Homo sapiens: one gene and its partner. The protein of the gene in region 1 purifies or fractionates together with the protein of each later gene. This does not show direct contact. Each region holds a gene or a part of one and is shown in the gene's direction. Other genes may lie near its edges.

Region 1 (3,962 bases):
AATCTCTAGCTGGCACAGGCAGCCAGTGAGTGAGGCTGGCGGCTGCAGGGGCACAGCCTTTAGAATGAGTCCTTCAGTGCACAGGTCCCAGGGTATACGGGGTAGTGGGAGGAAGGAGGGGACGCCTCGCAGATGCCACTGTTGGCTGGGCTACACCTTGCCACACTTGTTACTGCTTAGGAGGCTTTCTGGAGTGTTCCTTGGGTGCTACGACAATCTGCAGCAGACACTGTCCTTTCACCGCTCCTGGTCCTCGTTTGCTCCCCAGTGATGTCAACAGCTGAGGACTGCTCACGCTGCAACAAAAGGCTCTGCAGTCGCTGTCTAGCTTGCCCTAGTCGTCTCTAGAGTTCTGCCTGAACTGAAACTCAAGTGGGGTTCAGCTCATGACTTGTGGCAATTGACCAGGAAATTCACCAGTTGCTGTGGCTGGAAGGATTTTCAGTCCTGTGGGTTGTAACCAGAGGCCACAGGTGGATTCTGCCTTAGGCTCATGAGATTTCCGACTTGCTGTTGAAGAAAATGCCTTGTGAAGTGACAACAGTAGCTCTGACCCAACTGCCGGTGCCTCGCTAGTTCCTATACGTCCCACTGGATCCTCACAGCCCCGGGAAGCAGGTGCTACTACTCTTATCCCCGGGAGGAGACAGAGGCCGAGAGAGGTTAAGTGACGTGCCCAAGTCACACAGCTCGGCAGCGGCCGGGTTGAGCATCAGCAGTCTGTTTGCAGACCCCTCACTGTCACCCCCTGAGCCAGTGCGCCTTGGGCCCTGCGGTCAGGATGTCTCAAGCGTGGAGGCATCACCGGTTCGTGGCAGTCTCTGGAAGGTCACTGAGCTCTGTGCCCAGAATCGAGTCGGGGGAGTCTGTGCAGAGGTGGCCCTGTGTGTGGGGACAGTGTGTGACACAGACACTGCTTTGGATGGACACCTCTCCCGTGACCTCCTAGCATCCAATCCCAAAGGAACAACTGTTGCAGAGATGGACCGCTGGACACAAACCCACGTGCGTTTCTCTGGAGACACTGGCCAAGGAAAACAAAACATGCTCGAAGGCCAACAGCTGCATGCCCCACCGCGATGTGACCGCAGACACCCGGGGTGTAGAAGGGTCTCTGCCTGGTGGGGGGACACGTGCAGGCCGAGGAGAGGCAGGAAGGAGGCTGCCTCCGACTCCCCACTGGACTGCATGGCGACGGCGTGTGGTGGGGCAGTCAGCTAAGCCATTTGCCTAAGGGGCTGTCGGGCATCTGCGTGCTGGGGACCGACAGTGTGGGTGTGTTAGGAGGATCTGTATGGAGCACATTGCTGCCTCTGGCTAGGACAGGGTGGAAAGGGTGGCGTGGCTACAGCCTGACCCATGGGCACCGTCCTACCCTTTGTTCTGTGCTTCCGAGTGTCAGTCATGTGCTGGGGTCTGTGGGCCCATGACTCAGACGGTGAGCTCTGACCTTCCTGAGCCAGGGCTTTGCTGTAGTTGTGCCTGGCTCAGGAGCTCTAGGACAAGGGGACCGCTCCAGGTCTGCATCTACGGTGTGGCAGGGCCCCTCGGCACTCTTGTGCACTAGTGTCATCTTTCCCATTGAAATGACTGTGAGGACCAGAATGTGCACATGCAGATGGGCAGCTACTTGTCTGCCTTGGCCCTTTATTACACAACTTGCTGGGGGTGGAGATGCCACCCCCCGGCAGTCAGAGCCCCTTTATGATGTCATGGGGCTGGTTACATGACTGCCAAGGGGTGCTGCTGGCCACACTGCACTAGCAAGTTTGCCAGATGGAGGACAAGCGATCATTGAGTATGGCTCGCTGTGAAGAAAGAAATTCGAGAGGACAGGATCATGGCTTGGAAAGGGTGCCTTTCCCTCCCCAGTTGCAGTCAGAGACCTACCTTCACCCAGCAGATCCTTCCCCTGCCTGGGACGACCCGGGGTCCACTGGGAGCCCTAACTTGAGGCTGCTGACAGAAGAAATCGCTTTCCAACCTCTGGCCGAGGAAGCTTCGTTCAGAAGGCCGCACCCTGACGGTGACGTCCCGCCCCAGGGAGAAGATAATCTCCTCTCCCTCCCCTTTCCACAGAAACTGTGGAGACTGGTCAGCAGCAACCAGTTTTCGTCCATCTGGTGGGATGACAGTGGGGCTTGTAGAGTGATCAATCAAAAACTCTTTGAAAAGGAGATTCTCAAAAGGGACGTCGCACACAAAGTGTTTGCCACAACTTCGATAAAGAGCTTCTTCCGCCAGCTAAACTTGTATGGCTTCCGAAAACGGCGTCAATGCACTTTCAGGACCTTCACCCGCATTTTCTCCGCAAAAAGGCTGGTCTCCATCTTGAATAAGGTAATGAACGACAAGCCTCTGGAGGGGTTAAGTCGGTGGGCTCTGGGGCCTGGTCGGGTGGAAGTCCCAGGACTGCCTCCTGGGAAGTGGGCGACCTCAGGCAGGGTGTGGGGCCATCGCTGTGGGCCTGTGTCCCCCTCTGGGTGGAGGTGACATGAACTAAGAGTGAATGTGGGGAGAGGGCTGAGGATGGTGCGGGCCCCTCTCGAGTGTGTAAAATATCACAGGTGCCAAGTAGCCGTATCTGCGTGTCGTCCTCCCCGGGGCCAGCCATGTCATCTGGCGGTTGCTGTGTCCCCCTGACTCCACAGCACATTACCCTGTGAGGTGAGCAGGCCAGGGGAGTCTGGTATTTGTACCACTGTCACCCTAGCTGGTGTCTGGAGAGGTGCTCAAGTGGAAGCACTGAAGGGCGCCTGGCGCAGGAGGTGCAGATGCTCCTGCTGCCCTTGGTAGGTGGGCCCCTGGTGTGGAAGAGCCAGTACCCAGGGCCTCCAACCCAGCCGGGGTGCATTCTGTTGCCAGCTGACACTGCATGGGGGAGGCCCAGAATCTTCTTCCCTCCTGGTCTGCAACTTCAAAGACCCTTTCCGCCGGCCATGGACACCCTAATCTGCCATTTTGAGGCTTTTTCCAAGACGGAAAGGCCCGCCACAACTTGGTAAACCTTGACGATGTGAACGCGAGTCCCCAGCTTCCTTTGGGGACTGGGACCTTTTCCAGAAAGGCCTCCTGGGCCAGTAGAGTTCTCTTGCACAGGGGCGTAGATGGTTGGTAGTTGTAGTCCATCCTTGTGACTTGCAGTTTCCTTTTGTTTATTTAAACTTTGACTTATAGTTAGAGTTCTACTGCCATCCTTACTTTCAAAGAGACTCCCCTCACCTCCTCGTGAGGATGAAGAGAAGAGTGGGTGTCAAGTCTGCACCAAGACATCAGGAGGAGGACAAGCCAGAAGCTGCTGGATCCTGTCTGGCACCAGCAGACACTGAGCAACAAGATCACACGTCTCCGAATGAGAATGACCAGGTCACACCGCAACACCGGGAACCGGCCGGTCCCAACACCCAAATCAGGAGTGGCTCTGCTCCACCAGCAACTCCTGTGATGGTGCCTGATTCCGCCGTGGCGAGTGACAACAGTCCAGTGACCCAGCCGGCCGGCGAGTGGTCAGAGGGCAGCCAGGCTCACGTCACTCCGGTGGCCGCTGTCCCTGGGCCTGCAGCGCTGCCCTTCCTCTATGTCCCTGGATCTCCCACTCAGATGAATTCTTACGGGCCTGTGGTGGCCCTTCCCACAGCGTCCCGTAGTACCCTTGCCATGGACACCACAGGACTTCCTGCACCTGGCATGCTGCCCTTTTGCCATCTCTGGGTACCGGTGACCCTAGTGGCTGCTGGGGCTGCACAGCCTGCTGCCTCCATGGTCATGTTCCCCCATCTCCCAGCTCTGCACCACCATTGCCCCCACAGCCACCGCACGTCACAGTACATGCCAGCTAGCGATGGGCCCCAGGCGTACCCAGACTACGCAGACCAGAGCACATAGAGGGCAGCATTTGGGCAGAATATGTGCTGGTCAATAAATGTGTCAGAAAATGAGTAATTTTCTGACTGCACAAAAAA
Region 2 (3,500 bases), on another chromosome or scaffold:
TCAGGAGGAGTATGAAGACAAAAAACATGCTGGTCCTTCTTTTCAGCCAGAATTCTCTTCAGGAGCTGAGGAGGCATTAGTAGACCATACTCCCTATCTAAGTATTGCTACTACCCACCTTATGGATCAGAGTGTAACAGAGGTGCCTGATGTGATGGAAGGATCCAATCCCCCATATTACACTGATACAACATTAGCAGTTTCAACATTTGCGAAGTTGTCTTCTCAGACACCATCATCTCCCCTCACTATCTACTCAGGCAGTGAAGCCTCTGGACACACAGAGATCCCCCAGCCCAGTGCTCTGCCAGGAATAGACGTCGGCTCATCTGTAATGTCCCCACAGGATTCTTTTAAGGAAATTCATGTAAATATTGAAGCGACTTTCAAACCATCAAGTGAGGAATACCTTCACATAACTGAGCCTCCCTCTTTATCTCCTGACACAAAATTAGAACCTTCAGAAGATGATGGTAAACCTGAGTTATTAGAAGAAATGGAAGCTTCTCCCACAGAACTTATTGCTGTGGAAGGAACTGAGATTCTCCAAGATTTCCAAAACAAAACCGATGGTCAAGTTTCTGGAGAAGCAATCAAGATGTTTCCCACCATTAAAACACCTGAGGCTGGAACTGTTATTACAACTGCCGATGAAATTGAATTAGAAGGTGCTACACAGTGGCCACACTCTACTTCTGCTTCTGCCACCTATGGGGTCGAGGCAGGTGTGGTGCCTTGGCTAAGTCCACAGACTTCTGAGAGGCCCACGCTTTCTTCTTCTCCAGAAATAAACCCTGAAACTCAAGCAGCTTTAATCAGAGGGCAGGATTCCACGATAGCAGCATCAGAACAGCAAGTGGCAGCGAGAATTCTTGATTCCAATGATCAGGCAACAGTAAACCCTGTGGAATTTAATACTGAGGTTGCAACACCACCATTTTCCCTTCTGGAGACTTCTAATGAAACAGATTTCCTGATTGGCATTAATGAAGAGTCAGTGGAAGGCACGGCAATCTATTTACCAGGTAAGATCACAACATTGATAAATCTGTTTCCAAACCTGGAAACAGTCCCTTGGTGCTAACGTTTATATGTATGTAATTTTTATTGTGATGTTAAATCAATGGAGAGTTTCATATTATTCACATAACAGCAGGCCAGGCCACAGTATTGAGTTCATAATGAGATGAAATGACAGTAAGTATAGATTAGTTTTGGACTTTAGAAGTAGACTTTGTATTTTTCTGGGTTTTAGAAATAATATACAATTACAACATGGAAAAGATGAAATTATTAATGTTATAAAAATTCAATTTGTTTTTACTCACAACTAGAGTATTGCTTTGTCATATGTCTCATAGTTATACATGTTAGGTTTAAAAGTAGAAAAAAAGTCCTATTTTTAAAAACCCTCCCATTGATGGATGCTATTGCTGTAGTATCAAAATCTGTCAGGCCTTTAACATTTGGGAGTAGTACGTAGCTCTAATAATTATTTCAGAGTTTGTGCAGTATCAATATCAGCTCATACTTATATGCAATGTCCTTGTTTAAGACAGTCTACATAATGCATCAAACACAGTGCCTACCAGTAGTGAGTAGTCATTTATTATATAAACATACTGCCTGTTGAGAGAAGTTTTCTGTGTATTTACTGAATGTATGGAAAGCATGAATTTGATACTGATTCATATAAGCCATCTCTTCTGATTGCCACGAAAAGGCTATAAAAGCCCTGTGTGAAAGGGTAAGAGGTGAAGGTTCAGAGAGGTTCAGCAACTTGCCCAAGGTGGCACAGCCACATTGTGGTAAAAGTAGGATTTGAACCCAGCTTAGCTCCACTCTAAAGTCCATAGTCTTTTCACTGCTCTTTGCTGGTTTCAGTATAGTATAAAAATAAACAATTGATATTGAATAATATATGAACCAGGAATCTTGGAATATTTACTTTGTAGAATTTATTTTCCTCTTAATCTAGCCTGAGAATGTTAAGAAATCAGCTCTAATGGTGTTTTCCCATAATGTTATTATTTAAATTAACAATGTCAGTGGAATCCACAAATAGACATCACCACCTAGCTGCTACCTGCAAAAAGAGGAAGAAAAATCAGTACTTTAATGTCTGTCTTGGTTGAGAATATATGTTTTATTTTAATATGTTTTATGCCATGACTATCGTTAAAATTATTCTTCTGATCATATCAATATTACCTTTTGTGCCACCAATGCTTTATTTTGATGTGCTTCAGAAAGAGTAAAATAGAAAGTACAATTTTTAATAAATGGCTTGAAATATTTTGAGGAAAATTGATCAAAGGTAGTTGACATTGGGTTTTTTGTTATCACTGTGTGTTAAATCTGTAAATGATAATCTAGTAATTTGGCTAATATTTATTGTTTTTTAATTTAGTTTAATATACTTCAGTTTGTTAAAAATATGATGTAAAAATAACTGGTAATAACTAGGTACATATAGAGTTAAGTTTGATGAATGAGAAATATGTACCAATTTTCCAGTTTACAATATTTACCAAGATTTATAGTTTGCGTCTTCATTGCAAAACAAATGGTCACTTTAGCTTAATTCAGTAAACAGCAGCTCATATGGGATTACCTGGTCTATCTGTTGCAGATTCAACTTTCAGAGGTTAATACGAACTGTTTAGGGGAGAATAACATTCATAAAAACTGAAGTTTCCTGTTAATTGGAACGACTTCCAGTTCACAGGAAGACTCACTCACTCAGTCCTTGTTTCATGGTCTCAGCATGGTGTCTAGTGTCAGTGGTAGGAATAGTAATAGTACTTCTTCACATTTGTGTGGCACATCACAGTCTGATAAAGCACTTTCACCTAGTGTCATTTGGATTCAGCACAGAGGGCAGCATGTGGCTATGGCGTGTGTTAACTGCAGCCTTGTCATCCTGGCAGCGAGCGTACTTGTACTTTAAAATTCAGAAAGCTAAAATTGTTAGGGAGATTTCAAATAGTTTTGGAACTATAGGAAAAAGTGTCTTAGAAAACTCGGGGGAGTTTTTGGAGAAGTTGATGTACTCATCTGAATTAACCTAATTTTAACGTGAATCCCAAACATGGGAATGTGTACCTATCCAGGTTTATAGTCATTCAGAATTTACTTAACACTCAGAAAGTTTGAGTTTGACTTTCTGGTGTGGGGAAGTCTCAGTTATCTTTTATAGCAGTACCTTGTTTATCCTGATATTCTTTAAGCTAATGTTTCATAAGAAGTTAGACATCTTTCTTCTTTCATGTGTAATTATTTCAGGGTTTCAGGACTTAAGATTCTTGAAAGTATGGGTGTATTCCATAGATAATCTATTTTATTTCAATTATTTTGTAAAACTTTCAACTCTCATTTGGATCTTTGAAGATTTAGAAATGTAAGCAAGTCTGAAACAATATACAAAGAATAAGTATAAACTCAATGAAAATACACTTATCCAAGCAATATTGCAATATAAAATATATGCTTCAAGTGGT

Evidence for each region. The genes of interacting proteins can lie anywhere in the genome.
Region 2: the proteins of HSFX1 (region 1) and VCAN purify together in Homo sapiens (affinity purification with mass spectrometry; one study listed by BioGRID). This does not show direct contact.

What each region holds. Positions count from the first base shown.
Region 1 is NC_000023.11:149,772,906-149,776,867, forward strand, and holds HSFX1 (heat shock transcription factor, X-linked), read left to right. Parts: upstream 1-1,162; 5' UTR 1,163-1,776; coding exon 1,777-2,340; intron 2,341-3,177; coding exon 3,178-3,885; 3' UTR 3,886-3,962.
Region 2 is NC_000005.10:83,541,244-83,544,743, forward strand, and holds part of VCAN (versican core protein isoform 1 precursor), read left to right. Parts: coding exon 1-1,025; intron 1,026-3,500. UniProt on the Homo sapiens protein: May play a role in intercellular signaling and in connecting cells with the extracellular matrix. May take part in the regulation of cell motility, growth and differentiation. Binds hyaluronic acid.